Linked DNA regions of Homo sapiens: regions 2, 3, 4, 5 and 6 are each reported to be linked to region 1. Evidence: microRNA targets listed by miRTarBase, many of them from high-throughput screens and not tested one by one. Region 1 holds a microRNA gene; each other region holds the end of a gene's coding sequence.

Region 1 (5,166 bases):
ATGCATGCGTCGTTGAGGTGGCACAGCAGACCTGGGCAGGCAGCGGCGGTCAGTGGGCACGGCCCCTGGGCCAGGCATGGCACACCACCCACGGCTGGGGTCCAACCCCACTGACACCCCAGGAGGAGCTGCCCGCCGTGACCCCGTCGGGCATCCCGTGACACTTGGGACGTTCCGGGGGACTCACAGCGACCACCGGCCTCCCTGACCAGAAAGGCCCTTTCAGGTTATCCTGGGTGCAGGAGGGCCACAGTCCCTGGGTGAGGTCACACAGCTCAGGCCTGGCCCATGTGAGCCCCCTGCGCCCACCTGGGCCTCAAGGCACTCACCTGTGCGGCCATGGGGACACTCGCAGTAGAAGGAGGCCACACGGTCATGGCAGGTGGCGCCGTGGAAGCAGGCGGCGCTGGCACAGTCATCAATGTTCTCGCTGCAGTCCTCACCAGTCCAGCCGTTGACACACACGCAGTTGTAGCCACCGTGGGTGTTGTGGCAGGTCCCGCCGTTCTGGCAGGCATTTGGCATCAGCTGGCACTCGTCCACATCCTCGGTACAGTACTGACCTGCAGGGAACAGGAGCTGTCGGCCCCGGGCAGCTGCCACTCCCTGAGCTCCCTGTCCCCTAAGACGCAGGGTGGCAATGCCGCCCCCTCCAGGAAGCCTTCCTGGGCTGACTCCTCCACCCACCGCCAGCCTAAATCACTCCTTCCTCTGCAGGCCCAGCACCATGGAGTCTTGCCTCCTCTTTGTGCTCTGTGGACACTGCTGCGTCGGGGTGCACCTTTGCCCGTCACCCCACCAGAGGGTAATTCCCGAACACAGGGCCTGTCTGTTCATCCAGGCATCCCTGTGACTGGCCCAGGAAGCGTGGCCTGAGTGGGGTGCTGAAGGCCCTCAATGCCAGGACACCCCACTGGGCACAGGGGCTGCCTGGAGCCAGGTTGCAAACGGCCCACACAGACCAACCAGGGCCCTGTCTGTGCTGACCCCCGAGGTGAGGGGCACCAGACCCTGGCCACGGGAAGTGGGGCCCCCATCATGTTGTCCTTCTCGGCCAACCCTAGTCTGCCTGGCCTGGGACAGGGTCTCGGCTGCTCCCCGCTATGCCTGTGAGTGCAGTTTAGTAAGTGGGTAGCAGCCCCGCCCCGGCTACCCCGCCCTGCGGCGACCCGTATACGCGCCTGTCCACTCTGGCGGGCAGCGGCAGTTGTAGGTGTTCACGCCGTCCACACAGGCACCCCCGTTCTTGCAGTTGTTTCCTGGACAATCGTCGATATTTTCCTCACAGTTCTGGCCGGTGAAGCCTGCCGCAAGAGGGGCCGGGTCAGCCTCTTCCCTGAGGTCCAGTCCGGCTCCTGCCTGGACCCCCGACACACTGCTCTGGACACAAGAGCCTGGCCTCCACGGCCCTGCCCTGGGGCCCCCGGGGTCTGTGCCCGTCCCCTGCCTCACTCCAGTGCCCAGAGGGACACGCCCTGCTTGAAAGAATCATTTTGGACAGGACTGGCTAAACAGGGACTCAGGAACACAGGGTTCCAGAAGATTCTGTCACAAAAACCCTTGGGTCTCTTTTAAGAGGTTCCGGCAGCTCCTGCACCTGGGTGCCGCCTGCATGCTCAGAGCTCCCTACAATGTCTCCACAGGGGGGCCGCACACCCCATCTTCAGGGGCTGACACTGGGGCCTGGGCTCTGAGCAGCAGGGGGACATGGGGCCAGCAGGCTGCTGGCTGGGGCAGGGTGGGCCCCTCGCAGCCCCAGGGAAGCTGCAGAGATTCAGATGGCCCATCCTCCCTGGGGCAGAGCTCTGGTGCCCACCTCCTCCTCCCCCTCCTCCTCCACAGGCTGCCAGGGCCCCCTCCCCCGAGGTATGGCCCCACCCAGGCCTCCAAGGCAGCCAGTTAGCTATTAATCCACTCAACTCCCGCTGGTTCAATGATCAACCCAGAAAGGCGCGTTCGGCAACAGCCAAACCTGCAGCCGGTTACTAATTGCCGCCCTCCCGAGATGCCTTTGAACCCCCGTTGCCCTTGGAGCTCCCACCTGCTCGGCCCCTCCCTCTGAGACATTGCCCCACCGCCACCACCCCGTCCGTTCTGTCTGTCTGCTGGACCGGAGCAAAAGCAGGCAGCCAGAGACAACCAAAATCCAAAATGCAAATCAGCTTGGGGAGCACCCAAAACCAGACCCCAGCCCTGGCGCGGTGGCTCACGCCTGGAATCCCGGCACTTTGGGAGGCTGAAGTGGGTGGATCGCTTGCGCCCAGGAGTTCAAGACCAGCCTGGACAACATGGCGAAACCCCGTCTCTACAAAAAAAAATACAAGAAGTAGCAAAGCGTGGTGGCGCCGGCCTGTGGTCCCAAGCTACTTGAGGGGCTGAGGCAGAAGGATCGCTTTAGCCTGGGAGGTCAAGGCTGCAGTGAGCTGAGGGCACGTCACTGTACTCCAGCCTGAGTGACAGAGACCTGTCTCAAAAAAAAAAAAAAAATTCAGAGCCTGGAGCCTGAGTCCCGGTCCCACTCATGTGTGGGGCCCTGCACCCCGGCTCCGAGGCAGATGGGGCCCCTGGCTGGGCCTGCGACCCCAGGGCTGCCCTGCAAAGCACTGGCTGAGGCACACAGTGGGGGAGAGGGCGGGAAGCCAGCGAGAGCCCCGTGGACCCCAGCTGGACCCTCTGCGACGTAGCCTCGGCCAGCGACCCCACGAGGAGACAGTGCTGACGTGCCAGGCAGGCTGTGCGACCCCAAATCCCAGCCAGTTCCCGGGCCTGCAGAGCTCAGGGCCGCCCCCATCTCGGTTCCCCGTGACTCCACACACAGCTGTCTCCTGGGCTCCTGACCACCCAGAGGTGGCTGAGGGCCCTTCAGGGGGCCTGGGTGCAGGGGCCGCCGGGGACAGTCTGAAGCTGGGGTCTGGCAGGCCTGAGTCATTTGGGGAGGCCCCCGGATGGTCATCTCACCCTGAAACGGCCAGACTCCACAGCAGGCAGTGAGCACACCCCTCACCGGACGGGTGACCCAGCCCCCAGCACCCCAGCCTCTGAGATCTACCCACACTCAAGTGAGTGAACCCCACCAGCCCCTCCCCTTCCCTCCCTGCCCACTCCCCAGGGCCCTGAGCTGCCCCTGCACGGGCAGTGGCTCTGAGCCGGCCCAGCACCCCTGGCATCTCTGCCGCTGGGCCTCACCAGGAGGTCCTCACCCACCCTGCCCAAGGCGGGTGGGCATCAGCTCTGCACACAGGTGGCCTTGGACAAGGCCGCACACACCCCACCTGCCCTAGCCTGAACCACGGCCCCCCAAGAGCTTGGCCCCTCAATCCGTGTGACTGGAGGTAGGGTCCCGTGCTGCTAGGAAGGCATCTGAGCCCCCACCAGCAGAAGGGCTCTGCGCCCCACCCTGCAGAGATCCAAGCTGGCCAGGGAGTGTCTGTCCCCACCCCACGCTCGCCCAGTGACTTGCAGGAAACGCACACGTCTGGTGTCTGCACGCAGAGGTGGCTGGGCTCAGCTGACTGGGCAGCCAGGGAGCTTCCCCTTTGCAGGGGCCAGGCCAGCTTGGGGCTTCCAAGGGGGTGGGGCAGCCCTTGGGCCACCCGTGGGTCAGCCAGGACCCTGTGCACCCTCCAGCCCCACCCCTGCCTGAATGCCCTCTCCCCATTCCCACCTAACAGCCATTCTGTGCAGCTGAGATTGGAGGTTTTCTTTTTTCTCTTCACTTTTTTTTTTTTTTTTTTGAGACGGAGTCTCGCTCTGTCGCCCAGGCTGGAGTGCAGTGGCGGGATCTCGGCTCACTGCAACCTCCGCCTCCCGGGTTCAAGTGATTCTCCTCCCTCAGCCTCCTGAGTAGCTGGGACTACAGGCGCGTGCCACCATGCCTGGCTAATTTTTTGTATTTTTAGTAGAGACGGGGTTTCGCCGTGTTAGCCAGGATGGTCTCCATCTCCTGACCTTGTGATCTGCCCACCTCGGCCTCCCAAAGTGCTGGGAGTACAGGCGTGAGCCACCACGCGCGGCCGAGACTGGAGGTTTTCAAAACTCTTCCTTATTTTTAGAGCTGCTGCAAAATTTACTCAAACAAGAACTACAGCAGAGAGGCTCCTACGTACAACACGGGGATCGGGGAGCACTGGGGACACGGGCAGGCGGCTGCGCCTACCTGTCACCCACACCCGCAGGAGACCAGCAGGATGGCAGGAAGGGCCATGGCTTGGGAAGTGATGGTGCCCCCGCAGCTCCCACGCCCTCTCCGGCCCCAGCCCCACTGCAGGGGAAACCCTGGGGGTTGCGCAAGTCAGGGTGCCTGCACTGGGGGGAGGCAGGGCGTCCTACAGCTCGAATGTGAGTTCCGGGAAACTCCAGAGACACGGGCTGGCACCTGGACCCTGTGCAAGCCTCCTCCCAGCGCACACCCCGCTCCAGACGCGTCCCCCCGACACCACACGCAGTCTGGGGAACTCGCCATCCCGCCTTCCCAACTCCCCGCCATGGGCCCTCCCAGGGCTGCCCCTACACCAGGCGCCCCGTTCCCACCCCCTGGGCCTGGCAGCCGGGGAGGGGCTCGTGCACCCCGGCCAGCGGGCAGCACTACCTGGCAGGCAGGCACACTCGTGGGTGACGTCGCCCGTGGGGCGGCAGGTGCCCCCGTTCTGGCAGGGCGAGGGGCTGCAGGGCACGTAGGGCCGCTCGCAGTTGGGGCCAGTGTGGGTGGCGCGGCAGACGCAGCGGTAGGAGCCGACCTCGTTGTGGCAGGTGCCTCCGTGGCGGCAAAGCCCGGGCTTCTGGCCACACTCGTTGACATCCTGCCGGCAGGTGGGGCCATGGAAGCTGGGTGGGCAGTGGCAGATGTAGGAGGCCTCGAAGGGCAGGCACTGGCCACCGTTGGCGCAGGGGTTGGAGGCGCACGGGTCAGCCTGCTGGCACGATTTCCCTGGAGACAAGGGGACAAGAGGGTCGTGCTGGCCTCACTGCTCCCCGAGGCCGGGCCTTCCCTCCCTTCAGGCCACCTGGAGGTGCCAGCCTGGGCTCCACCTTAGGTGCTATCACATTTGATCCTCAGGACCTGCCGTGAGACCGGTCGCCTTTGGCAGATGAAGGACCACAGCTCCCAAGAGGCCTGAGCCTGGGCCGTCTCTTCCCAGAGCTGACACCTCCAGACACCCTTCACCC
Region 2 (5,166 bases), not on the chromosome of region 1:
TCCTTCAGGAAATTTCCTCCCAGCCTGCCGTCTCAGATGTCTGTCTTAGTGTGGACGTCAACAGGTGTCTGCTTCTAGAAACACTCTGGTCTCCCGCAAGCCCCTCCTCACCTCCTTGGTGTGAACAGGGCCCGGTGCCGCAAGGGTGGCGGGCATTGCCGAGGCTGGTGTGCGAAGCTGTGCAGTGGTGACCGCTCTACTGGGACCTGGCTGGGTTCCCGGCCTGGTGGGGACGGGAGTGGGTCTGGGAAAGCCCCTGCCCCCTTAGGCCTGTGCCCTGAAGTGAATGGCTGCTGACCTCCTTCCCCCTCCATAAAATGGGGCTTTTTGTTTTCTTTTGAGACGAAGTCTTGCTCTGTCGCCAAGTCTGGAGTGCAGTGGCATGATCTTGGCTCACTGCAACCTCCGCCTCCCCGGTTCCAGTGATTCTCCTGCCTCAGCCTCCCGAGTAGCTGGGATTACAGGCTAATTTTTTGTATTTTTAGTAGAGACGTGGTTTCACCGTGTTAGCCAGGATGGTCTCGATCTCCTGATCTGGTGATCCACCCACCTCGGCCTCCCAAAGTGCTGGGATTACAGGCATGAGCCACCGCGCGCAGCCAATGGGGCTTTTAATAACAGGCGCCCTCGGTGAGGTCGCAGCTCCTTGGCTTGTAGACTCCAGGATGGGACTTGGTGGGTGTGGCAGGCCCCTCTTTGAAGAGTCACGGCAGATAGCCCTCAGTCCTTGCTGCATCCCGACTCCTTGCCTGCAAAAGCTCTAGACAGAGCACAGTCCTCAGCCGCCCCACACAGCCCGAGTTCTGGAGCCAGGCCTCGGGGGAGGCCAGCTCCAGCCCCCTCTTCCCCCTCCCCCACACCTTTTCCTCCTCCAGTGACACAACTGGAGCAAGTTTCCAGGAGGAGAGAAGAATTCCAGTGAAGCAGCAGCTGCACGTCCGAGGCTTGGGGAGGACCCAGGACTGTGTGGGTTTCTTACCTGCCTGAGCCACCTCAGGGAATCTTCCAGCCTAATGCAGGCATTTCTGCACCTTTGGGGTCATGCTTTGTAGCAGTGTCTCCCTTGCGACCTCGCAATAAATTGGCCCCACGGGGTGATTTTGACAGTCTGTGCTGTGCTCTGCCCCTAGCTGGGCAAAGTCCCAGAGCTTTTGTGGAGCCCGTGCCTGCCTCTGCCCCTGGCTTTGATCTTGCTTGGCCTCCCATGGGGCATGGCCTGGGCCATCCTGATGGACGAGGCAGGTGAGGGTCAGGACTCGGAGCCTGCTGCAGAGATGGCGGTGGGGGCAGCTCCTGGGTCTCTGGAGCTTGTTCTGGGACCTTGCCAGGAGCCCGCGGCAGCAGGCTCCACTCCCTGCTCAGGTGCCCATGGGTGCAAGGCTCCTACTGGGGTTTGCGGTGCTCGTTTGTTCCCCGTGCACTTACGGAGTGTCTGCTGTGTGCTGAGTGTTCTGGGGACGATGGTGTTTGTGGAAATCACTGGGAATGAGAGGAAGGAGGGCCTGGAGCACATGACAGGGAGCAGTGTTGCCTTCGAGGGTGGCCTGCGTGGAAATTCACGGAGAGGGCAGGGGAAGATGCGCAGTGAGGGGCGGACCTGGAGAAGGACGACAGCATCCCCGGAGACAAGGGGACAGCGTCCAGGGATGAGGACGATGGGGGTTTGCTGCTGAGGGCAGAATAGCTGGGAGTGTGGGGGGTGGGAGCCTGTGTCGGGGCTGGAGCCAAGCAGGTGAGACCCCGCTCCAGGCTGGCTTGTGGCTGTCAAAGCAGCTGCACCTGCAGTGATTTTTTTTTTTTACTGACTTTCCTGGTCTCGCCAAAGATGGGCTCCATGCTGGGGGTTTGTTGGGGGTGCCCTGGGAAAGGCTTCTGTAAGGGGTCAGCAGTGAGCCTGGGCAGAGGGACAAGCTGACCGCTGGGTGGCTCTTCATAGGGGCTCCCAACGGACGCAGGGACCAGGCCTTTGTACCCCTGCATCGGCTGGTCACCAGCCACAGGCTGCCCCTGGGAGGGTCGTAACTGTGTGAGCTGGCTCCCTGCCGCCAAGAGCTGTTCCTGCTCAGGGGGGTCTGGGATGCTGGGTGGGTGTAGGCACCCCCGGCTTCCACTACCTCTGCTAGAAAGGAAAAAGCTGCTAATGGATACTTATTTGATGGTACACTTAATTCTATAAAAGTTAGAGAATATCTACAAAGCAAAAGAAAGAACCTGTAAGTGACAATTATCCGCACTGTATTAGTCCATTCTCGCACTGCTACACGTACATATCAGAGACCGGAAAATGTATAAAGAAAGGAGGTTTAATTGGCTCAGGGTTCTGCAGGCTGCACAGGAAACATGGCGGCATGTGCTCAGCTTCAATCATGGCGGAAGGAGAAGGGGAAGCCGGCACTTCGCATGGCTGGAGCGGGAGGAAGGGGAGGGGCTGCCACACACTTTTCAAAACAGCCAGATCTCGTGAGAATTCTATGACCACGAGAACTGCACCAGATGGGGAAGTCTGCCCCCGGGATCCAATCACCTCCCACATTGGGGATTACAATTTAACATGAGATTTGGGCAGAGACATAGATCCAAAGCGTATCACAGACACCTGGATATTACCATGGCCAACGCTTTGTGTGTGTCCTTCTGATCTCTACAGGCATGAGTGCACACAGACAGACGTGTATCTAAAAGTGGGAGCATCCTCTCTGTTCTGAACTAGGCCATGAACATCTATGTTATTAAATATTTTTCTGCAACATAATTTCCCCAAATGAATATAGCTTTATTTTTTATTATATATGCAATATACGCTTATTTAAGAAAGAAGACAGCAAAGACAAGAGTGATAAAAATAACTGGGGGAGGTGGCATATACCTGTGATCCCAGTGACTTGGGAGGCCGAGGCAGGCGGATTGCTTGAGCCCCGGAGTTCCAGACCAGCCTGGGCAACATAGACCCTGTCTCTAAAAAAAAGATCTTAGTCAGGTGTGGTCGCACACACCGTAGTCCCAGCTACTCAGGAGGCTGTGGTGGGAGGATTGCTTGAACTAGGAGTGTGAGGCTACAGTGAGCTGTGATGGCACCACTGTGCTCTGGCCTGGATGAGAGAAAGATGCTAACAACTAATTTTTAAAAATGAGAAAATCATCTTAATCTTAAAATTCAGGGATAAGCATTCTGAGCATTTTGGGGAACATATTCTTTATTTTTATTATTTTTTTTGAGACAGAGTTTCTCTCTTGTTACCCAGGCTGGAGTGCAATGGCAGGGTCTTGGCTCACTGCAACCTCTGCCTCCTGGGTTCAAGCGATTCTCCTGCCTCAGCCTCCTAAGTAGCTGGGATCATAGGCATGCGCCACCACGCCCAGCTAATTTTGTATTTTTAGTAGAGATGGGGTTTCTCCACGTTGGGCAGGCTGGTCTCAAACTCCTGACCTCGTGATCCACCCACCTCAGCCTCCCAAAGTGCTGGGATTACAGGCGTGAGCCACTGCGCCCGGCCTCCACTGGTCCCTTTTCATTGGAGATGTTTGCTCTTCCTGATGGATGGGAACTCTCTAAAGCACAGCAACTTCTCCTATGCCTTGTGTGCAAATAACTGTCTTGCAGTTTGCAGTTTGCACGTGGAAGTTTTTCTCGTGTTGTGAAATCCACGTGTCCTTTCCTCAGGGCCTGGCTTGCTGGAGTGCGTAGAGAGCAGTCCCTTGCTGGGCTTATGTATGCAAGGGTAGCCTTTGCCCAGATTCTCACCACCGTTTTAATGAATTACTGCTTAACCTGTAATTGTATAACCAATCTAGCATTAATTTTTGTGTAAGGTTTGAGAGCCAGCTATCTAGATCTATCCCCAAACAATGGGCGTGATCGAGTAATCCATTTCTTTTCCCTGGTGGGCATATGCCTGCCTCTTAGTTGCCGTAGGGGCCCCTTCTGTGCTCTGCTGTCTCCACCTGCAGCTCTGTGGCCTTTTCACATCTGCCAGGACAGGCCCACCCTCCTCTTCACCGGCCCTGTGAAAGGCCCTGCGGTGACCATGTGCTTTTTCTTCCAGATGAATTGTGCAGTGTGTGTCAAGTTCTAAAATGTCTCGTTGGGACTTAGCAATTATCTTGTTTCATTTGATTGGCAGACAGTTGGCATCTTTTGAGCAGAGTTTTCTGGCTTGTGAGATGATACTGTGGTCACTTGGTATATGGTGTAAGATAAGGGTATATGGTGTAAGATAAGGGTCCAATTTCTCTCTTCTGCATGTACATATCCGACTTTCCAAGCGCCATTTGCTAAAGAGGCTCCTTTTGCTATTGTATATTCTTGGTCCCCTTGTCAAAGATTAGTTGGCTGCATATGTGTGAGTTTATTTCTGGACTCTATATTCTGTTTCATTGTATCTGTTTTTATGACTGTATCATATTGTTTTGATTACTACAGCTTTGTAATATACTTTAAAACAGGATGTGTGATATATCCAGATTTGTTGTTCTTTTGCAAGATTGCTTTAGCTGTTTAGAGTATTTTGTGATTCCACACAAATTTTAAGATTGTTTTTGCTATTTCTGTAAAAAAAAATGCCATTGGAATTTTGATAGACATTGCATTGAGTTTGTAAACTGCTTTGGGTAGTATGGACATTTTAACAGTATTCTTCCAATCCATGAACATAAAATGTCTTCCATTTGTTTGTACCTTAATTTCTCTCATCAATATTTTATAGTTTGCAGTATATATTCTATATTTTATAGTATTTATATATTTATGGTATTCAGTATATATTCTAAAAGTTCCACCAAAAAACCTGTTAGACGTAATAATGAATTCATTAAAGTTGCAAGATACAATATCAGCATACAAAAATTAGTTGTGTTTTTATGCACTAACAATGAACTATCTGAAAAAGAAATTAAGAAAACAATGCCATTTACAATAGCATAAAAATAATAAAATAATTAGCAATAAATTTAAGTGAGGATCCTTTACCTCCCTTAAATTTATTGCTAAGTATTTTATTTAAGTATTTAAGCAAGGTTCTTTTACCTCGCTTAAATTTATTGCTAAGTATTTTATTTAAGTATTTAAGCAAGGATCTTTTACCTTGCTTAAATTTATTGCTAAGTATTTTGTTATTTTTATGCTATTGTAAATGGGATTGTTTTCTTAATTTCCTTTTCAGATAGTTC
Region 3 (5,166 bases), not on the chromosome of region 1:
TCCTCTGCCTCGAGGCCCAGCTTTGCCCATTATGAGTGCCTTCTCCATACTGGTAAGGTGGACACCTGGTCTTGGTGATGTAGGTGTTGACACTCAGGAGATAAAGAGCCTGGTGGAAGTTCGCCAGGGGTCTTTTCTGTCCCCCACGTAGTCCCTCATGAGCTCCTTGGTGGGCACAGCTATGCCTTAGACTGCTTCTGGGTGTTCCCACCCCATCACCTCTGCCCCACTCAGGCAGAACCCGTTAGGCTAGGATGCCCAGTAAGTTTGAGATAAAATGGAGTTGGCTGCAGGTAGGAGTTACAGGAAGAGGCACGAGCACCAGGCGTCCCTGTGCCAAAATACACACAGGAGGAAGGCTGCCTGGCTTCAGCTGGCTTGTCCCTAGGGAGGCTGTGCGCCTCATTTTCTAGCTGGCAGCAGTCCTCGATCACCCAGGAGTGGAGCTCCCTGCCATCCTTGGGCTTCCCCTCATGCCAGGCACTGGGCTGTGGACATAATGAAAGCCCTGGAAATGTGGGTACAGTTTGCGGAGCTTCCAGGGGGCATCCTCGTGGTGGGGTGTCTGGGGGGCTCTGACTGCTCTCTGCTCTCATCCCTGCCCAGCTCCCCCTCCGGGGCTCCGCGGGACACTGGATCTCCAGGTTATCCGCGTGCGGATGGAGGAGCCCCCAGCGGTCAGCCTCCTGCAAGACTGGTCCAGGCACCCCCAGGGCACCAAGCGTGTGGGAGCAGGTGACACCTCAGACTGGCCCACAGTTCTGTCAGAATCCAGCACCACTGTGGCAGGGAAGCCGGAAAAAGGGAATGGAGTGTAAATTCTTGCTTTCCTGGGGAGGGAGGGAGGGATGAGGCAGCGTCCCCCAGTGGCTTATAACTCAGAGCTGCCTGGCTCACCCACCTGGTGGAGAGAGTAGAAACAGGTGCCAGGGCAGGAGGGGGCTGGGGCAGCATCCACTGTTATTTCGGGGCACTGGAAAGTGTCTGTTCCTGGCCAGGCCTGAGGTCGGCGAGGGTGGCTGAGGCTGTTGTGCAGTAGGGCACTGGGCCTGTGGAGAACACCTACCCCAGTCCTTCGCTGACCCCCACCTCTGTTTGTCCCCCATGACCTCCTCCCACCCTCCCCCTGCTCCCCACCATTCTCCCTTGGCACAGTGCCTTACACAAGAGTGGTCATAAGGGGGTTTGAACTGAGTCCCACTACCTCGGGGGACACCTCTCCTCCCCACTTGTTCAGGCTTCTAAACCAGGAGGCCTCCATTACCTCTTCCTGTCCCACCCCTGCAGAGGCCTGAAGCTGGGCCTGGGCACCCCATTCACTCCCGTTCTCATTTACATCTGTTTTCCTGTTGTATATATCACCTTTGTTGACAATAAATTATTTTTTTTTATTAAGAGTTCCGTCTGGGCCATCATTGGGGGAGAGGGTTTGCTAGCAGGATACCTGGCCACCTAGAGCAACCCTGAGGGGCAGGAGGGTTGGAAGATGGTCCTGGGGGGAGCCAGGGAGCCACCTCTCCTGAAGGTGGGACAGCACCAGGGCAGGCCTCTGTGGAGCCCAGGAACGAGGGCTGACTTGTGCTATCAGTCACCTGTGGGCGTCTCACCCCCTCCCTTCCTCTCTGCTCTGGAAAGGGGGTCAGAAACAATTTTCTTTAACATTGTACCTTCTGGCTCACCTGGTAGGCCTCTGCCCAAAAGAGGTCACTGTAGAAGCCCAGGGGTGCTCACAACCAGGGAGCTGGGAATTAGCCTGAGCTTGCTTGCTTGCTTGCTTGCTTTTTCTTTTCTTCTTTTTTTTTTTTTTTTTTTTTTTTTGAGACAGAGTTTCATTCTTGCTGCCCAGGCTGGAGTGCAGTGGCGCGATCTCGGCTCACTGCAACCTCCACCTCCTGGGTTCAAGTGATTCTCCTGCCTCAGCCTCCCTAGTAGCTGGGATTACAGGCACCCACCACCATGCCCATGCCCAGCTAATTTTTTGTATTTTTAGTAGAGACAGAGTTTCACTATGATGGTCAGGCTGGCCTCGAACTCCTGACCTCGGGCGACCCACCTGCCTCAGCCTCCCAAAGTGCTGGGATTACAGGCGTGAGCCACCACGCCCGGCTTATCCTGAGCTTTCTAAAGTGAAATGGCGGTAACCAGCTTGCAGGTAGAAAGATGCCTCTCCTCCCTTTCCGTATGATGGTGAGGGGCACAGGGGTCCTAAACTCAGCCCCGCCTTTTCCAGCCCTACAGGCCTGCACCCTCAGCTGTCCACCTTCATCCCCCCCAACCCTTGGCTTAATTAAACCCAAACACTTGCTGGTTTCCCCTATTCCCTGGATCATGAGGAGGCCACTTTTGGTCTCTTCACCGGATTCCTTACCTTCCTAAACTAAACCAACAGGGGCCAGATCTGTGCGTGGTTTTCCCTTTGGTGAGATGGAGCACACAGGCAGCCCCTTCTCAAACCCCAGCTGTACTGTCCTGTTTAGAGCCCATGGCAGGTGTGGTAAGCAGGACTGTATACCTCTGCACATGCTGACAAATGTGCACATAGGAGAAGTGGGGGCACAGGTGGGACTTGGAGGGCAGCTATTCCTGTAGGACGCTGACATTGGCACATTTTTTTTTTTTTTTTTGAGTTGGAGTCTTGCTCTGTCACCCAGGCTGCGATCTTGGCTCACTGCAACCTCTGCTTCCCAGGTTCAAGCGATTCTCCTGCCTCAGCCTCCCGAGTAGCTGGGATTACAGGCGTGCACCACCATGCCTGGCTAATTTTTGTATTTTTTGGTAGAGATGGGGTTTTCGTCATGTTGGCCAGGCTGGTCTCAAACTCCTGACCTCAGGTGATCCACCCACCTCGACCTCGCAAAGTGCTGGGATTACAGGCGTGAGCCACTGTGCCCGGCCAACACTGCCAGATTTTGAGACTAACCAGGAAGTTCATCTCGGGCAGGCAGGGTCTGGGCCTGGGCAGCGTGTGCTGTGTGCTCACCTGATGGGGTGTCACCATGTGCCAAGCCAGGTATGAGGGATCTCACGACTTGGTGGGCTCCTGGGACATGATCCCTTCTCCCCATCTGATAAGCTCAGGAGGAGCCTAGAAATATACAGGGTCTTTGTCTAGGGGACATTAAAAGACAGGTGTGGTGGACAGAAGGCAGTGGCCAAGGCTTCAGGATGCCTTGTATCTAGTGTGGCTCCCCCACTGCATGATGGCAGGCAGGCAGGCCGGCCACGGAACTCCCATGTCTCAAACACCATTATCCACAGATTGGCAAAACTTGTATCCTACCTGATAGGAGGGAATAAATAATGCTAAAAATCTGGTTCTGCAAGCACAAATACTGCAAATGGTTTTCTCTCATCCTTTCAATCCTGTGACTTGTGTTTACATTTATGCCAATGTGCTTTTAAAACAACATGGCTGTGTTGCTGGGTGTTTACACTTGAGAAAACGTATGTAAAAGTTTGTTGTAAAATTGTGAAGCCAAATGCCCCTTTGCTGTTCTATGATTAATGGCTTGGCCTTCTAGACTGTGAGCTCCTGGGCAGGGACCAGGTTGTATTGACTTTGTTTTCCAAGTGTCCTGCCTGGGGCCTGGCACATAGTAGGTGCTCAATAAATGTTTCTCGAGTGCCCTCTGAGTGTGTATTCCTGTGTGACATTTTTCTAGTGCATGTTGGTCCCTGGAGTGTGGTTCTCAGCACAGGGTGGTTGCTACAGTGACTGTGCAGGGTGGGAACTTCATCCCCACATTGTGGCCAATAGGGGTCTCCCCAGCCTCAGCCAGGGCCCTGGGGACTATGTGAGTGTGTGTGGCCAGCAGCTGTGTGTGGCACCTCTGGGCTTCCAGGAAAGAGTTGGAGAAAGTGGGGCTGAGGATATGACTCCAGCCCAGGCTGGAAGGACCTTACTGACGGATTGCCCAGGGCTTTCCTACTCCACACCGGCTTGGAGTCCGTGACGCTGGTCCTGCATCCTGGTGCAACACCAGGGAAGCTCTGCACGAATGTCGGTGACTCTCAGGGCTGGTGGTGGCACCTTCATCCATGTGGTGCTGTGGCCCAACCATGTGTTTGGTTGAAGAAGTTGGGGAAGAGGGTGCCGCTGCCCCTGACTGCTGAGCCACACACCCATTTCCTGACTTCCCAGACCTCCTTGGCTCTCTGAAGCCAGCCACCTCCTGCCCTCCCAGCTGCCTTCCATGGGATCCAGGTGTGGGAGATCTTTTTGGATACCTAACAAGGAAAAACTTTCTACATTCCCAGTACTTCTGACACCAATGTTAGTGGGGAGGGGGGCGCCCACATCAATTCTCCGACTCTCCAGACACCAGCCAGCTGTTCTAAAATTCAGTTCTGACACTCACTACCCAGAGTTAGCACGGTCCCTGCAGGTGAAGGGCTCAGTCCCAGCAGACTGCCCCTGCTTCAGATACCAGTTCTAGGTCCCAGCTTGTCACCTGTACTTCTGACCAGCCCAAATTTGGAAGTTCCCACAACCCCCTCCTCAGTTTTGATAATTTGCTGTAATGGCTCACAAAAATCACAGAAACAGGCCGGGCGCGGTGACTTACGCCTGTAATCCCAGCACTGTGGGAGGCCGAGGCGGGTGGATCAACTGAGATCAGGAGTTCGAGACCAGCCTGGCCAACATGGCAAAACCCCGTCTCTACTGAAAATACAACAATTAGCTGGGCGTGGTTGCGGGTACCTGTAATCCCAGCTACTCTAGAAGCTGAGGCAGGAGAATCACTTCAAGTCAGGAGGTGGAAGTTGCAGTGAGCAGAGATCACGCCATTGCCCTCCAACCTGGGTGACAGAATGAGACCCTGTCAAAAAAAAAAAAAAATTAGGGAAACATTTACTTACATTTACTTGTTTATAAAGGATGTTACATAGGATATAAACAAACAGGTGATGAGGTACTGAGGGCGAGGTTCAGAAGGGTTCCAAGCACAGGAGCTTCTGTCCTAGTGGAGTTGGAGTGAGCCACCCTCCTGGCATGTGGATGGGGTGCTGTCCCTGACCTGGAACCTCCCAAACCCCATTATTTAGGGTTTTTATAGAGGCTTCATTAGGCACGATTGATTAAATCATTGGCCACTGGTGATTGGCTCAATCTCCAGCCCCTCTTCCCTCCCCAAGGTCTTGGGTAGGGATGAAAGTTGCAATCCC
Region 4 (5,166 bases), not on the chromosome of region 1:
TGAAGTAGGTACACAGTGTATGATAAAATTATTAGGCAGGAGAATACATCAAATTTATATTTTAAGAGAATTCTAGGAGCAGTGTAGATTGGAAGTAGAAAAGAGACTAGAGAAAGCTAGCTAGAAGCCAATACAATGATGTAAGGGGTGTGTAGATGATGACTTCATTTAAGGCAGTAGTGGCTATAGCAAAGAGTGATTTTTCAGTAAATAGGATAAAGATTGGACATAAGGGAAAAAGCTAAGAATGTCTTTTACTTTGTATTTCTAGCTTACATTTTAAGGTTTAAATTCTAGCTTGCTTTTTTACTGTTTACAGAGAAATGCTTGAATTTATGATGCCTCCAAACTTAAGAGGAAGTTTAGGAGGAAAATCAATTTTTTAAAATCGTTGCAACCTCTGTCTCCCAGGTTCAAGCAATTCTCTTGCCTCAGCCTCCCGAGTAGCTGGGATTACGGGCATGTGCCACTGTTCCCGTCTCGTTTTTGTATTTTTAGCAGAGATGGGGTTTCGCCATGTGGGCCAGGCTGGTCTCAAACTCCTGACCTGAGGTGATCTGCCTGCCTCAGCCTCCCAAAGTGCTGGGATTACAGGCGTGAGCCACCACGCTGAGCCTTTTTTTGTCTTTTAATAAATGGTTTGTATTCTTTATCATGACCAGTGTGTCCAAATTTATTCACTGTTAGGTAAATGAGTGTCTTGAGTATAAATGAGTTCAGACCTTTTAGTAAAGAAAAATGAATATGTGAAAGCAGATTATTATTAGATGTTAAAGTCTAGATACAAGTCCAGGTTCTCTGGATGGCATTAGTCAGCAAATCATTTTTTCATTTTATAGAATTTACCAAAGTATTCATTCTTGCTTATTTTTCTTAGAATGCATAAACTTGTAAAACCTACTACTGAAAAGAAATATGTGGATCTTACTGTGTCATTTGCTCCAGACATTGATGGAGATGAAGATTTGCCGGGACCTCCAGTAAGATACTACTTCAGTCATGACACTGATTAATACAAGTTGTCTTAACGTTACTCCAGGACCACTTGATTTTGGAAAGAGTGCACTTAATTCAGAAGCTAAAGAAAATCAGTTCATAATACTATGGATTTCTCTTTCATTAAGCCTTAATTTTAAGGGAAACATCAGTAAGAAACTGCACTGAAGAATTATAAAACATTTTGGGGCATAGCATACACTTGTCTAACGGTTCACACGTGGCTATGATCACAAGCAACTTTGAACTGGAATGCTATTTACAAAAGTTTTGTGTATTAATCTGTGTATTAATCTCTCTGGATAAAAAGAAGGAAAAAATATGTATGACCAGAACAGATATGGATGAAGAAATTGAAAGCAACGAATGCAACTATTCAAAAAGTTTAATTTTATGAATTTCTTTTTTGTTTAGTCTTGAAGACTGATTTTCTATGCAAATAGTGTTTGGCATCCTGCACCTCTGATATGATTTGGCTTTGAGAATTTAATACCACTGGGAAGAAGTATGGTAGTGGTGGATGAAGGGTGGATATTTTAAATTGTGCAGTTACAGTTTACTGTCCTATTACCTCTGCTCGTTTAACCAGTTTGTTATATCACTGTGTCCCCAAAATCAGGATTTTTGTTGATAGCATCAGTGTTGTAGGAGCAATAGGTCAGATGAGACATATTAACTTAGACTAAACGTGAACAGTATTATATGGACTCTCACAACGCTCTTAGAGAATCCGTGAATGTGAACAGACAAATGTGGCTAACCATTTGATTCTTCAGTATGCCTTCTAATGTGGCTATTTTATTTATGTGAGACTCTAAACCTGATTGTCCTAATATATAAAACTAAAAGATTTTGTAAAGGGAGTGTCTTTAGAAATAGATGAAATGTAGAATGTTAAAAATTATTGCTAGGGTAGTCTTTTTTTTTTCCAGAAACCTAATTAGGGTATTAAATTTTGTGTTTTTTTTGTTTTTTTTTTTTAAACAGAAGCATGTTATTTCATTCCCATTCCCAGAAAGGGAGTTAATGAAGATAAAAATTTATTTTTTAAGGTCTTTATTGAGAGAAACTTTGTTTTCTGATATGAACTATTGCAGATGTTTTTATAAATACTTTCATTAAAATGATGTAAACAGTAGTACCCAACACTGTAAACTCAGTGAAAATAGTAAATGATTCTTTTATTACTAAGACTGTCATGCATTCTGAAGCAGTTGGCTTTTTTTTAACCATAGGAAGTAATTTCCCTCTAGCTCCTTTCCTTCTACTCTCCTGCTCAGACCATTAGTAGGTACTTTGTTAAATAAAAAACTAGATTAACATCAATATTACTCCAATTTGGTATCTTTTACACTATGTATTATACCTACTTTCTTTTTATTTCATTTACAAATAGTTTAAATTACTTTATCAACCAGCTGTATTGTTTCCCTCTTGTAAAAGTACCATCAAGTGGGGAAAATGTATGTGGAAGTGGAGAGTGAATTTGTATGACTAAAGGATAATCTGTACATGGGGAAGTGGGCAAAAGTGGATAGGATGAATTTAAAGAAAATGACTACCTTTGGAAAAAAGAAATTAAATTTTGTTCACATATCCTACCCTTTCCCATTGTGCATATCCCAAGTGTCATATTTAAAACTAAGGTTACTTAAAACAGAATCCAGGAATATCAAGGCTCTGTGGCTTGGAATTTTAGAGGATAGGACTAATAAAAGGACTTTTGCAAAGAAGGCTTTTTTCCACGTTCACTTTGTTTTGTGTTCTTTGAAAGTAACTGATACTTTTCGGGTAGTTAATTCAGCAGTCCATAAATATGATCCAGTAACTTGCTTATATTTTATTGAAGTCTCGACAGCTCTTCAGAAGTAAATTTAGAACGATGCTGTCAGTTCATATTTATAGATATTAGTGTTTTAGCAGATAAAACAAAATCAACAAAAATTAAGTTCATTTTGTGATTAAACCTGCAACCATTTTTCCATTACTTTTTTTCTATAGTTAATGGTTATTGCCATGATTTCTTCTGTTTGGTTCTACTAAGCTAGAAAGCCAGGGTGAAGTTAATGATAATTCCCATTATTTTATTTCTGTACCATGAGATTGCTGTTGATGACTGAAATACCAGGTGCAAAAATTAATGATTTGATTTTTGTACAGTTTCAATGAGTATTTTTTACTTATTAAAAATAAATTAAGAAATGTAAGAATATCTTTGTAAATCATGTTTCATAAGTTGACTCCAGAGATTCTGATTTTGCTGTTTATTTTGTGAGTAATGTTGCTTTGGTGTTTCCTGATTTTCAAGTTTGCAATCATGGAGATACAGCAGTTATTAGGTGTGGAAGGACATTACCTCAAATGTCCTCAGATGGCTCCAGGAAATTCTTTTAAAACAGTTGGAGAGAAATAGTCGTGACCATGTAAAACCTAGAGGATCTGGTAAATCCCATACTACTGGTTAGGGATTTGTAAAGTCCATTTCTTTTTAGAGTTCAAAGCAGTTCTGTTACTTGTCCATAAGTTCCTCATAAATTGTCCCAAAGGTAGGACATGGAAATAAATGTATATCTTTATTTTTTAATCTACTATGTCACACTCTGGTGATATTCATGGAACATTAAAAAAGCAACTATGTTTATTTTATAATTAGTAAAATGAAGATAGAAAATTGTTCTTTTGAAATTTTTAGGGAAAAAAAAAATCTCGTGACCTAAATCTTTCCACTATAATGAATATTCATTGTGATTGCAAATATCTAATTTTATATAATCACTGTGTATGGATTTAGCGATTTTACTTTTCATAGATTCAAAAACATATAATCTGAATGCTTTCTCTGAAAAAAAAAAAATCAGAGTTGAGCTCTTGAGGATCAGAGTTAAGTATCCATTGATAATATGTGTTCATTTTGCTCTATGTCATAACTTTGTTTTTTTATTGAGAAATATATATTTTTCAAAAACACATATATATTCAAAAATACATAAAATATAAATATGCAGTTCAAGGAATAATTTTAAAGCAACTATATAACTAGCACTCAGCTTAGTAGAATATATTGACAGCAGTTCAGAAATTACACATGTAGTTCCTTCCCAGTCACAACCAGCTCCCTGCCACGTACCCTTTGGTAATTACCACTATCCTACCTTGTATGATAATTGTCTCTTTGTTTTTATAGTGTTACCACCTATGTGTGTAAACTTAAACAATACAGTTTGCTTGTTTTTGAGTTTTATTTAAAATCATACATTCTTTTGTAGCTGCATTTGTTCAAGATGGGATTGATTCATGTTGGTTGTAGCTGTACTTTATTCTTCATTATGTCTGTGTAATTTACTTTTCTGTTAATATGCCACAATTTATTTACTGTAGACAATTGGGATGTTTTTAGTTTCAGGCAATTACAGTTTCACAATGAACATCATTTTATGTAACTCCTAGTACAAAGAGTATATATTTAGGAGTAGAATTTTTTGGTCATAGGGTATTCATATCTTAAATTTTATTAGATGATTACAAATTTTTTTCTAAGCATTAGTATGTTGGTTGGTTTTGTGTTGCTATAAAGGAATATCCAAGACTCGGTAATTCATAAAGAAAAAAGGTTTATTTGGCTCATGGTTCAGCAGGTTGTACAAACATTGCACCAGCATCCCTGCAATCATGGCAGAAGGCAAAGGAGGAACTGGCGTATCACATGGCTAGAGGAGCAAGAGAGAAATAGAGGAAGTCCCAGATCATTTTTAAGAATCAGATCTCACATTAACTCATGGAGCAAGAACTCGTCATCTCAACGAGGGCACCAAGCCATTTATGAGGGATCCAGATATCCATCCCCATAACCCGAACACCTCCCACCAGCCCTCACCTCCAACACTGGGGATCACATTTCAACATGATATTTGCAGGGGACAAATATCCAAACCATATTTCTCCATATCTTGGTCAGTGCTGGTGTTAACAGTTTTTGTTTTTAATTTTGCCAATCTGGTGGATGTGCAATTGTATCTCATTGAAGTGTCACTCTGCATTTCTCTATTACCTGTGAAGTTGAGTATTTTTTCATAAGTTTATTGGCCAATTTGACTTTCTGTTTTTGTAAAGTATCTTGTCAGGACTGCCACACGTTTTTGTTGTGTTGCTAATCTTTTTCCTCATTGATTC
Region 5 (5,166 bases), not on the chromosome of region 1:
CAGCTAAACCAGCCTCTTTCTGAATGCAGCTCAGCCCAGAGCCACTTGTAATTGATGTTTAGAGAAATACTAGAAGCAGCAGGATGGTAAACATGGAATGGCTGCCCTATGCTACGTGGAATGGTAGATTGCTTTACTGTTCACCTAGTGATAACAGGAGTAGTCACTTCATTTTATTGATGATAAATTGAGGTTTAGCCAAGTCACACAGTGAAGTGCAAGAGCTAGGATTACAACTGAGTTCTGTCTGGCCCAGAACCAGCTCTGCAGTGTCCCATCCACCCTCACACCGCTGCTCCTCTGGACCTCTGTCACACAGGAGCAGACAAGGATCATTCTGGGATGCAGCAGCTACTGCCCACAGAAAAGCCATCTCCCCGTGGCCTTGATACTCCCTTTTAAGAAGTGGTAAACTGGCCGGGTGCAATGGCTCATGCCTGTAATCCCAAAACTTTGGGAGTCCCAGGCGGGCGGATCACCTGAGGTCGGGAGTTCAAGACCAGCCTGACCAACATGGAGAAACCCCATCTCTACTAAAAATACAAAACTAGCCAGGCGCGGTGGTGCATGCCTGTAATCCCAGCTACTCGGGAGGTTGAGGCAGGAGAATCACTTGAACCTGGGAGGCAGATGTTGTGGTGAGCCGAGATCAAGCCATTGCACTCCAGCCTGGGCAACAAGAGCAAAACTCCGTCTCAAAAAAAAAAAAAAGATAAAACTACAAGATACCATGATGATGAATGTCAGGTTTTGTGGTTGGGACCAACCATGAGACAAAGCTTACGAAAAGGTTTACCCTGGCTTAGTCCGCATTAACAGAAATATGGTATCTGGAGCATCCAGATCCAAACCTGCTCTAATCTACGTGTCTAAAGGATAAGTTGGTTCCTAGATGCCTTGCCTTAAAGAGTGGGGTGCTTCCCCTTGAGCAAAAAAGACTATGGAGTGGGCCAGGTGCGGTGGCTCACGCCTGTAATCCCAACACTTTGGGATGCCAAGGTGGGTGGATTGCTTGAGGTCAGGAGTTCAAGACCAGCCTGGCCAACATGGTGAAACCCCATCTCTACTAAAAATACAAAAATTAGCCGGGCATAGTGGTGTGTGCCTGTAATCCCAGCTACTTGGGAGGCTGAGGCAGGAGAATCGCCTGAACCCGGGAGGCAGAGGGGTTGCGGTGAGCCGAGATCGCACCACTGCACTCCAGCCTGGGTGACAGAGCCAGACTCCATCGTAAAAAAAAAAAAAAAAAAGCTGGAGTGTAAGAATGAACTCTCTCTTCAAAAATATGAAGAGCTTTTACACATGAAAGAGATGAGATGTTCTGTTGAGACTTAATGGAGCAAACTAAGACCCCGAGTAGAAGTCACAGGAAGCCCAAAGCCCCCTCGGCACAAGGATAAATATGTCCGAAGACTGTCTGAGGAGATGGTAAGTTCCCCGACTGGGGCACATGAGGCAATCACAGCTAACGTTTTGAGGATACCTGTTCTATGCAAGCTGTTTTATTGAATGGATTACAAAAAGTATGTTAAGTAATGCACACCCTAGGAAGGCGTTCCTTGTAAAATGGGCCCATGTTTCAGGTGAGGAAACTGAAGCTCAGAGCGGGAGACAGCTTGCTCAAGCAGAGGCCAAGGCCTTTACGTCATGGCTCTTCCTCAGCACAAGCTAGAGACCCACACTGGTGGGGATGCTCCAAAAGGGACTCGAGGATTAGAAGGAACCTGCACCATATGGCTTTGAAGGCCTCTCCCTGAGGATTAGTGATTCTGATTTTTCTTAAGACAGGATTCTAGGCTACTCTATATGAGAGCCAGGGCCAGGCAGAGGCTGTGGAGACCAGAGTCGGGGTCAGAATGATAGTCCAGCCCCACAGTAGCCTGCTCCTGTCCTTCTGGGACTCCCTGGAGACTGGACCCTAGCACCTCCACTCAGCCTCACCCTCCTCACTTCCTCTGCAGAGGTCTATTCTAGGAAAAGGAAATGGCCGGAGCTGGCAATGAGGAGCTGTGACCACAGGGTGGCAGCAGTGCTTCAGCTGTGGAGAGTGACTATAGGAAGGGCGATGAGGCAGGTCGGAAGCAGTGCTCTCTAGTGAGGATGGGGGTCTGTCTGCAAAGATTGGAAGCCACACTCATTCAGTGGGCTCCAAAATCCTGTAGCCTCCCTCTATATCTTAATAATTTTTTTTTTTTGAGACAGAGTTTCTCTTTTTGCCAAGGCTGGAGTGTAGTGGTGCCATCTCAGCTCACTGCAACCTCTGCCTCCCCGATTCAAGCGATTCTCCTGCCTCAGCCTCCTGAGTAGCTGGGATTACAGGTGCCTACCACCACGCCCAGCTAATTTTCGTATTTTTAGTAGACAGGGTTTCACCATGTTGGCCAGGCTGGTCTCGAACTCCTGCCCTCAGGTGATCCACCCGCCTTGGTCTCCCAAAGTGCTGGGGTTACAGGTGTGAGGCACTGCACCCGGCCAAAAAAAAAATGGTTTTTAATTAAAAAAAAAAAAGATACAGGCTGGGCATGGTGGTTGACGCCTGTAGTCCCAGCTACTTGGGAGGCTGAGGCAGGAGAATCACTTGAACCCAGGAGCCAGAGGTTGCAGTGAGCCGAGATCGCGCCACTGCACTCCAGCCTGGGCAAAAAGAGCGAAACTCCATCTCAAAAAGAAAAAAAGTTAAATTCTCTCCATCATCATGAAGTTGAATATATTTTTTCTATCCACAGGCAAATCTGAGTAGCCTCCAAGAGGCACACAAGCAGAGGATGGGCTGTGTTGCCCTGACTGCCAGCCCCAGGCACAGAGGACCAGGCCTGGTCATCCTCACAGACTCTGACCCTGGCTCTTCCCACTCCTCTTCCACTCCAGGACATCCTACTTAACCCCTCCTGACATGAGTTTCTTGTGCTTTAGTCTACAGGTTAGGAAAGAGGGGAAGTGATAAACAAGCTCTCCAACCTGTTGAGGGATTAGGGGTTCGTCTAAGGCTCCCCAGGGCCTGGCTCTGACAAAGCGTCTGCAACTAATGATGCTTCTTGAGCTCTGGAGACAGGATTTATGCATCTAATAAAGTCTGTAACTCCAGGCTTAGGGGCCGGGGGCAGGAGGCTGAGAGCATGAAGTCCTGGGGGCGCCATGGGAGGAGATCCCAGGTGGCTCCTAATGAGCCCTGCATTTCCATTTGCCTGCTCTAGATTCCCCTAAGGCTACTGTGAGGCTGGGGGTGGGGGAACAGCAGGTATAAGAGGTTGGGGTGGCTGTAGGAGGGTAGGTGGCAGCATGGATTCTAGGCAGGCTGCTGCACTGCTGGTGCTGCTGCTGTTAATAGACGGGGGCTGTGCTGAAGGGCCAGGAGGCCAGCAGGAAGACCAGCTCTCCGCGGTGAGTGTGTGTCCCATCCCCATATCACCATTGCCTCTACTTCGGTTGAGACTTGTGCTCTAGGTTCTGATACTTTCTCTGGCTGCCAAGGTTGTCATTAGGTCCTCACATCTGAGGAAATGGTTCCGCAGCCTCCTACCACTTGCCCCTGGAAGCCAGTCCCTTCCCCTTGTGACTTACGTGTCCAGGGTATTTGCCCATCTTCCTTCCCTGATACCCCCTTGGCACAGGAGGAAGACAGCGAACCCCTCCCACCACAGGATGCCCAGACCTCTGGGTCACTGTTGCACTACCTGCTCCAGGCAATGGAGAGACCTGGCCGGAGCCAAGCCTTCCTGTTTCAGCCCCAGAGGTGAGTCTGAAAGGGACACAAGCATGGCAGGGGCTGGGGGTGGAAAGGGCAGGAGGCAGAGGAAGAGGAGAAGGAAGGGGGCTAGAGAAGGGAGACTGCGGGGACCTGAGGACAAATCTTTCCTAAGGTTTGGCAGAAATACCCAGGGATCCTGGAGGAATGAATGGCTGAGTCCCCGGGCTGGAGAGGGGCTGAATTCCCAGTTCTGGAGCCTGGCTGCCCCTCAACGCTTTGGGAAGAAGTGACATGTCATCCCTTGATATGTCTGCATGCAAGGTCCACACCCAAAAGTGTCAATGTTTGCCCCCCAAATAAAATTGTCTGGCTTCTGAATCCATGTGTGTCTGTGTGAGACTTTACAGGGCTGGGTGGAAGCCCAAGGGCAAGAACCACTGCCCTTCCCCTCCACCAAACCCAGCCCTCCAGCAAGGCAGCCGACAACATTCCACGAGGCCACTGTGCCCAGCCTCCTCCCACCAGAAAGGAAAACAGGAGAATGGCTGGAACAGGAGCTCAGGGAAGGCACACAAAAGTAATGTGGTGACCTCCTCTGCTATCCACACTGCTCAAGGAAACAGAAGAGAAGGGCTTAAAAATCCACAAAGCAGCATATTTATTCCAGGCTCTAGTAGACAGCCCCCTGATTTCATTCCCATTCATCATCACCAATAAAATGAGGACGGATCCTGGGCTGGCTGAGGCTCTGTGGTCCTTGGCTCCTTGCCCTGTGCCTTCTCAGCTTCAAGGCAGGCAGTCTGTGTCAGAGGTAGAGATGGCACCCACAGAGGGTACCAGAGCTGCGCAGATACATGAGCCCAGAGGCAGAAAGAGCAGGGAGCAAAGGGTGCACATCCATGAGTCCAGCTGGGGCTTCACTTGCTGCCTGCCATGATCTTGAGGTACTGCAGGGCACGGCGGGCAGCCTCACCACGGGCTGCCTCCCTGGTGGTTGCAGAGCCATGACACACAGTGGCCGGCTGGGTGGACAGTTCCACCAGGCACTGGCAGAGTCCACTCAGGCTCAGCTCCTCTGGAGAGCAAGAGAGAGGAGGGAGGCAATGTTGGGGGAGGTAGCCCTGGGGAGGGGTGCGTTCACGTTATCATCACCCCCTTCTACTTGCTCCGGTCCAGCCCCCACCATCCCCTGGCTCGCTCCCCAGCTAGCCATACCAATATCCAGGTAGCTGACGTGAAAGGCCTGCTCCTCAGAGAGCTCACTGAGGACACGGCAGCAGGCAGGGCCCAGGGCACCCAGGGAGCCCAGGGAGCAACTGCGGAGGGACAGGATCTTCTCTCCTACTGAATTTCGTAGAGAATCCCAGGTGCAACCTGGGCCCCGGTTTCGAAGACCATCCAGGCGGGAGCCCACACCCTGTCAAGATGGGAACAGTGAGAAAGATGAAGCGAGAGACTGTGGGACCCAGGCATTGAGA
Region 6 (5,166 bases), not on the chromosome of region 1:
TCGGATCTATCTTCATTTCACTTGTAAAATAGACTTGGAACTGGTGAGCTGAGATTGATAGATACCCTTCCCTGTTTAGGAATCCCAGTGGGGTTGGAGCACCTTGTCTCTGCCTGTCATGGAAAATATGTCCTGTGCATAGATCAATTCCAGAGAAGCATTTTGGTTAGCTGCTTGAGTTGAAGAATGAGGAAGGAGATGTGATTGATGGTCCTGTCAAGCCACATGTAGGGGAGGGTGTGGCATGGTTCCCTTTTGAGGGGGGCTGGGCAGCCAAAACAACACATTAACTGAGGCTGGGTGTGAGGATAGAAAGAGTTAACATGAGTACCACACATGGCAGAAACCCTAACAGAACACTTCTGCCTCTATTGGCAGCCAGACGCGTGTAGGGGTCCCAGAAAATGGCACTGATTCCCGGTCTTCCTTTGTTTCTCCCCAGCTGGATGAGGCAGTGGCTGAAGCCCACCTGGGCAAGCTGAATGTGAAGTTGACCAAGCTAACTGAGAAGCAAGCCCAGTACCTGGGCATGTCCTGTGATGGCCCCTTCAAGCCGGATCACTACCGCTACTGAGAGCCAGGTCTGCGTTTCACCCTCCAGCTGCTGTCCTTGCCCAGGCCCCACCTCTCCTCCCTAAGAGCTAATGGCACCAACTTTGTGATTGGTTTGTCAGTGTCCCCCATCGACTCTCTGGGGCTGATCACTTAGTTTTTGGCCTCTGCTGCAGCCGTCATACTGTTCCAAATGTGGCAGCGGGAACAGAGTACCCTCTTCAAGCCCCGGTCATGATGGAGGTCCCAGCCACAGGGAACCATGAGCTCAGTGGTCTTGGAACAGCTCACTAAGTCAGTCCTTCCTTAGCCTGGAAGTCAGTAGTGGAGTCACAAAGCCCATGTGTTTTGCCATCTAGGCCTTCACCTGGTCTGTGGACTTATACCTGTGTGCTTGGTTTACAGGTCCAGTGGTTCTTCAGCCCATGACAGATGAGAAGGGGCTATATTGAAGGGCAAAGAGGAACTGTTGTTTGAATTTTCCTGAGAGCCTGGCTTAGTGCTGGGCCTTCTCTTAAACCTCATTACAATGAGGTTAGTACTTTTAGTCCCTGTTTTACAGGGGTTAGAATAGACTGTTAAGGGGCAACTGAGAAAGAACAGAGAAGTGACAGCTAGGGGTTGAGAGGGGCCAGAAAAACATGAATGCAGGCAGATTTCGTGAAATCTGCCACCACTTTATAACCAGATGGTTCCTTTCACAACCCTGGGTCAAAAAGAGAATAATTTGGCCTATAATGTTAAAAGAAAGCAGGAAGGTGGGTAAATAAAAATCTTGGTGCCTGGAAGAATTTTGAGCCTTTATTTTATAGATAATCCTCTGCCAACAATGTATGCCATGAATAGGGGGTTATAGTCGTGCTGATGAAGCATTCACGGGGTACTCTGCAGTGGAACGGCTGTCTGTGGTCCTTAGGCTTGAAAGAATGGGTAAAGTGAAGAGGGAACTCTTTCGTTTTTTTTTGAGACAGAGTCTCGCTCCGTCACCCAGGCTGGAGTGCAGTGATGCAATCTCAGCTCAATGCAACCTTCGCCTCCTGGGTTCAAGCGATCCTCCTGCCTCAGCCTCCTGAGTAGTTGAGATCACACCCAGCTAATTTTTTTTTGGTATTTTTAGTAGAGACGGGGTTTTACCATGTTAGCCAGGCTGATCTTGAACTCCTGACCTCAAGTGATCTGCCTGGGATTATAGGCGTGAGCCACTGTGCCCGGCTGTTTGCAGTATTTTTAAAAGTGCACTAAGTGGGGACTCACATTAAGTTCTAAAGATACAATGTCAAGTAAAACCCTTAAGTCACACTCAATGGCCCATGATCAGTGAGGCATGAGGGGCTGAAAACTGCTCACTCTGGCTTAGATGCTCATCAGTGTGTCCTGCCTGACAATTAATTCTTACCTTTTCTTTTTCCCTGAGTGCACATAGTTTAAGTTGCATAAGTTACGTGTGTATGTGATGTGACTCTGCTGTAAATAGTGTACAGACTTTGGTACTTCAACTATTATTAGTACCAAATGACAGGGCACCCACTCCCAACTGACCACAACACAAGTGGTCAAAACAGGCTGAGATCTTGCACACTTGGGTGACAGGCATGGTGCAAGCATCTTTTAGAGTTGTTGTTTTTTTTTTTTTTCTAGACAGTCTCGCTCTGTTGCCCAGGCAGCAGAGTGCAGTGGTGCTATCTCAGCTCACTGCAAGCTCCACCTCCCAGGTTCATGCCATTCTTCTGCCTCAGCCTCCCGAGTAGCTGGGACTACAGGCACCCGCCACCACGCCCGGCAAATTTTTTTTTGTATTTTTTTTTAGTAGAGATGGGGTTTCACCATGTTAGCCAGGATGGTCTCGATCTCCTGACCTCGTGATCCACCCGCCTCGGCCACCCAAAGTGCTGGGATTAGAAGCGTGAGCCACCGTGCCTGGCCTTTTTTTTTTTTTTTTTTTTTTTGAGACGGAGTCTCACTCTCGTCGCCCAGGCTAGAGTGCAGTGGCACAATCTCAGCTCACTGCAACCTCTGCCTCCTGAGTTCAAGCAATTCTCCTGCCTCAGCCTCCCAAGTAGCTGGGATTACAGATGCTCATCACCACACCTGGCTAATTTTTGTATTTGTAGTAGAGACAGGGTTTCACCATGTTGGCCAGGCTGGTCTTGAACTCCTAACCTCAGGTGATCTGCCCACCTCAGCTTCCCAAAGTGCTGGGATTACAGGCATGAGCCACCATGCCTGGCCTTAGTGCACTAAGTGGGGACTCACATTAAGTTCTAAAGATATGATGTATCTTTACATCATATGTAAAAAGGTATGGTCTTATTTATTCCTCATAGAGACTTGAATTCCCCTGTCTGAGGCTCTGAGAGGAGCCATAAGCATGAGCTGACTTTTGTATGTGGTAGGACTTAGACCAAAATCCAAGCCCCTTCCACACCAGCAAGGTCAGGTTTAGGAAGGGAGCCTGGATTCAGATTTCCCAACATTAGATCAGGAACTCTGGAACTGTAAACCAGAGGGCTACCCAGAGCCCTGCCTCAGTTCTTCTACTGGGGTGGCTGCTGGGACGATAACTTCACAGTAGAAAAAAGGAGAGGCTGCTGTTCTTCTAAGCCAGAGAGGTTGAACGCCTTCTGCTGCACAGCCGCTGCCTGTGTGTGCGCATGCTCCCTTCCCTCTAGCGTGTCTCCTCCTGGATGTGGGAAATGCTGTCAGAATGCTTCCTCCTGCCAGATCCCATGTAGCCCCCCACCTCCCTTCTTCCAGGAGTTCTGGTTTCTGTTATGCCAGCCTCTTCCTTTCCTGTTCGGAGGTGTCCTGTCAGTTCCCAGAACCTTTTGTTTCAGAAAACACAGCCCCTCTTTTCACATCTGGTCTCAGACTTACCTCTGATTTCAGGTCTGCTAATCTGTCACATGTGTGACACTGACCGGGTACCCACAATGAAAGATGATGTGTCTCCTGCTCCACCCCCAATACCCCAATACTCCACTCCTGATATCTGGGCTGCCCCCATCAAAGCTTCATGGAGAAAGAAGGAATTGGCCAAGGGTCCTGCAGTATCCAGGCCTAGCCCTGGTTGGATTTTTTCCAGGAAAGAGATGGGAAGATGAGGCCTGTGGTTGGTGGAAAGTGGCTGTTTATGGAGCAGTGGACTGAACTTTGGAAAGAGGAGCCCTGGGTCTGCTGCTGACTCACTGTGTTCCCCGCAGGGACAGAAATACCTACTTCAGATGGCTGTCTTGACGCTCGAATGATAGAACATTAGTGAGGAGTTTTTATGCTGAGTTTTTTTTTTTTTTTTTTTTTTTTTGAGATGGAGTCTTGCTCTGTCGCCCAGGCTGGAGTGCAGTGGCGCGATCTCGGCTCACTGCAAGCTCCGCCTCCCAGGTTCACGCCATTCTCCTGCCTCAGCCTCCCGAGTAGCTGGGACTACAGGCGCCCGCCACCGTGTCCGGCTAATTTTTTATATTTTTAGTAGAGATGGGGTTTCACCGTGGTTTCGATCTCCTGACCTCGTGATCTGCCTGCTTTGGCCTCCCAAAGTGCTGGGATTACAGGCATGAGCCACTGTGCCCGGCCTTTATGCTGAGTTTTAAGGGCTGTATGAGACACCAGGTGGTGGGAGGGAGCTGTTTTGAGAGCAGGGAATTTAGGATACTTAGGAAATTAGAAAATTAGAGAAGTCATAGGATCTTGGAACTAAGGGAGAACCTTAGAGTCCTGTGGAGCAGAACCCAGCATTTGTATGTGGAGAAACGGAGGCCCAGAGAAGTTGTGACTTATCCGGGTCACTCTGCAGGTCTGGGTGTCCCACCCGAGTCCATGTCAGGGCTCTTTCTGCACACCAAGCCCCATGCCCACCTCTGTGTGACTGGCTGTGGTGGGAGGGGCCTCCTAGGCTAGAGGTGCTGGGATCCCTTTTCAGTCCAGAAATAATGAGCTTAGAGGGTCTGGAAGTAGCATGGACTAAAACCCAGGAAGGATCCACAGGGACTGTTGATGCCAGTGAGGACTCCAGGAAGCCGGATCACGGGGACTGTTGATGCCAGTGAGGACTCCAGGAAGCTGCTGTTGGGACAGCCCTGCTTTGGGAGTCTGAGGTTCCAGGAAACCCCAGGAATCCGGATTCTCATCCCTGAGACCTACTCAGGACTAGCCCAGGGGACCGAGCTAGGAAACCTGCTTGAGGTGGTAGAGGCAGCCAGGGGTGTGCAGTGGTCCGGGCGGGCTTCGATCAGTTCCAGGTTGGTTGCTTCTCCAAACTGGCTCCAAGACAGGCATGTGGCTCAAGTTGGTCTGGACTCAATCCCGGGACTTTAGGACTTTTGCTAGAAATCTGGTGTGGTGCAGGAGCGACTCCAGGATTCACTCTGTGGGCTGCTTGGACTCAGACTCCCCCAGGACTAGAGGCTGCTTCTCCCTGGTGGGAGGAGTTACAACCTTGCAAGGGTTCTAAAGACCCCCGGGTGCTGGGTGGTGGGCTTTTCCTGACAACTTCCATAAGTTATTGGAACCTAAATTCACACTGCTTAGCATCGTAATAGTCTGATCAACCCTGCTCAGTGTTGTCATACTTGCCCTATTACCAGGGAGAGAAATAGAGAGGTGGGTGCCTCCCTAGAG

Evidence for each region. Region 1 holds the annotated microRNA hsa-miR-4673 (UCCAGGCAGGAGCCGGACUGGA, at 1,343-1,364, opposite strand). A microRNA usually pairs through its seed, bases 2 to 8, with sites in the 3' UTR of a target mRNA and lowers its output. Matches are read on the target gene's strand: a 7mer-m8 pairs with bases 2 to 8, a 7mer-A1 pairs with bases 2 to 7 and ends in A, and an 8mer does both.
Region 2: miRTarBase lists ANKMY1 as a target of hsa-miR-4673. The part of its 3' UTR that is shown has no 7-base or 8-base seed match.
Region 3: miRTarBase lists SPINDOC as a target of hsa-miR-4673. Seed matches in the 3' UTR shown: 7mer-m8 at 886-892.
Region 4: miRTarBase lists UBA6 as a target of hsa-miR-4673. The part of its 3' UTR that is shown has no 7-base or 8-base seed match.
Region 5: miRTarBase lists TARBP2 as a target of hsa-miR-4673. Seed matches in the 3' UTR shown: 7mer-A1 at 4,351-4,357.
Region 6: the mRNA of AHCY is a reported target of hsa-miR-4673. Seed matches in the 3' UTR shown: 7mer-A1 at 862-868 and 8mer at 1,332-1,339.

Annotation. Positions count from the first base shown.
Region 1 is chr9:136,518,262-136,523,427 of GRCh38, forward strand. MIR4673 (microRNA 4673) reads right to left here and starts at 1,365; the gene lies at 1,307-1,365. NOTCH1 (notch receptor 1) reads right to left here. Exons shown (of 34, transcript NM_017617.5): 4 at 4,589-4,927; 5 at 1,182-1,304; 6 at 330-563; 7 at 1-31. LOC124902310 (a long non-coding RNA gene) reads left to right here. Exons shown (of 3, transcript XR_007061865.1): 2 at 5,057-5,166.
Region 2 is chr2:240,475,365-240,480,530 of GRCh38, reverse strand. It overlaps ANKMY1 (ankyrin repeat and MYND domain containing 1), which reads left to right. Exons shown (of 18, transcript NM_001282771.3): 18 at 876-1,109. The coding sequence ends at 922. Among named protein-coding and RNA genes, the nearest start is that of GPC1-AS1, 21 kb to the right of the region's middle. RefSeq lists enhancers at 806-1,315, 1,316-1,825, 1,826-2,335.
Region 3 is chr11:63,826,322-63,831,487 of GRCh38, forward strand. SPINDOC (spindlin interactor and repressor of chromatin binding) reads left to right here. Exons shown (of 6, transcript NM_138471.3): 6 at 607-1,395. The coding sequence ends at 818. Among named protein-coding and RNA genes, the nearest start is that of MARK2, 10 kb to the right of the region's middle. RefSeq lists a silencer at 5,000-5,166.
Region 4 is chr4:67,614,844-67,620,009 of GRCh38, reverse strand. It overlaps UBA6 (ubiquitin like modifier activating enzyme 6), which reads left to right. Exons shown (of 33, transcript NM_018227.6): 33 at 878-5,166. The coding sequence ends at 1,013. Among named protein-coding and RNA genes, the nearest start is that of STAP1, 59 kb to the right of the region's middle.
Region 5 is chr12:53,505,588-53,510,753 of GRCh38, reverse strand. It overlaps TARBP2 (TARBP2 subunit of RISC loading complex), which reads right to left. Exons shown (of 9, transcript NM_134323.2): 8 at 4,904-5,105; 9 at 4,323-4,763. The coding sequence ends at 4,606. It overlaps ATF7-NPFF (ATF7-NPFF readthrough), which reads left to right. Exons shown (of 15, transcript NR_159377.1): 13 at 2,727-2,920; 14 at 3,612-3,733; 15 at 3,861-4,066. NPFF (neuropeptide FF-amide peptide precursor) reads left to right here and starts at 3,270. Exons shown (of 3, transcript NM_003717.4): 1 at 3,270-3,381; 2 at 3,612-3,733; 3 at 3,861-4,066. The coding sequence starts at 3,280. The coding sequence ends at 3,978. It also overlaps a transcript of ATF7 not described here. RefSeq lists a silencer at 1,485-1,717 and an enhancer at 1,855-2,149.
Region 6 is chr20:34,276,442-34,281,607 of GRCh38, reverse strand. It overlaps AHCY (adenosylhomocysteinase), which reads left to right. Exons shown (of 10, transcript NM_000687.4): 10 at 443-1,340. The coding sequence ends at 574. Among named protein-coding and RNA genes, the nearest start is that of AHCY, 24 kb to the left of the region's middle.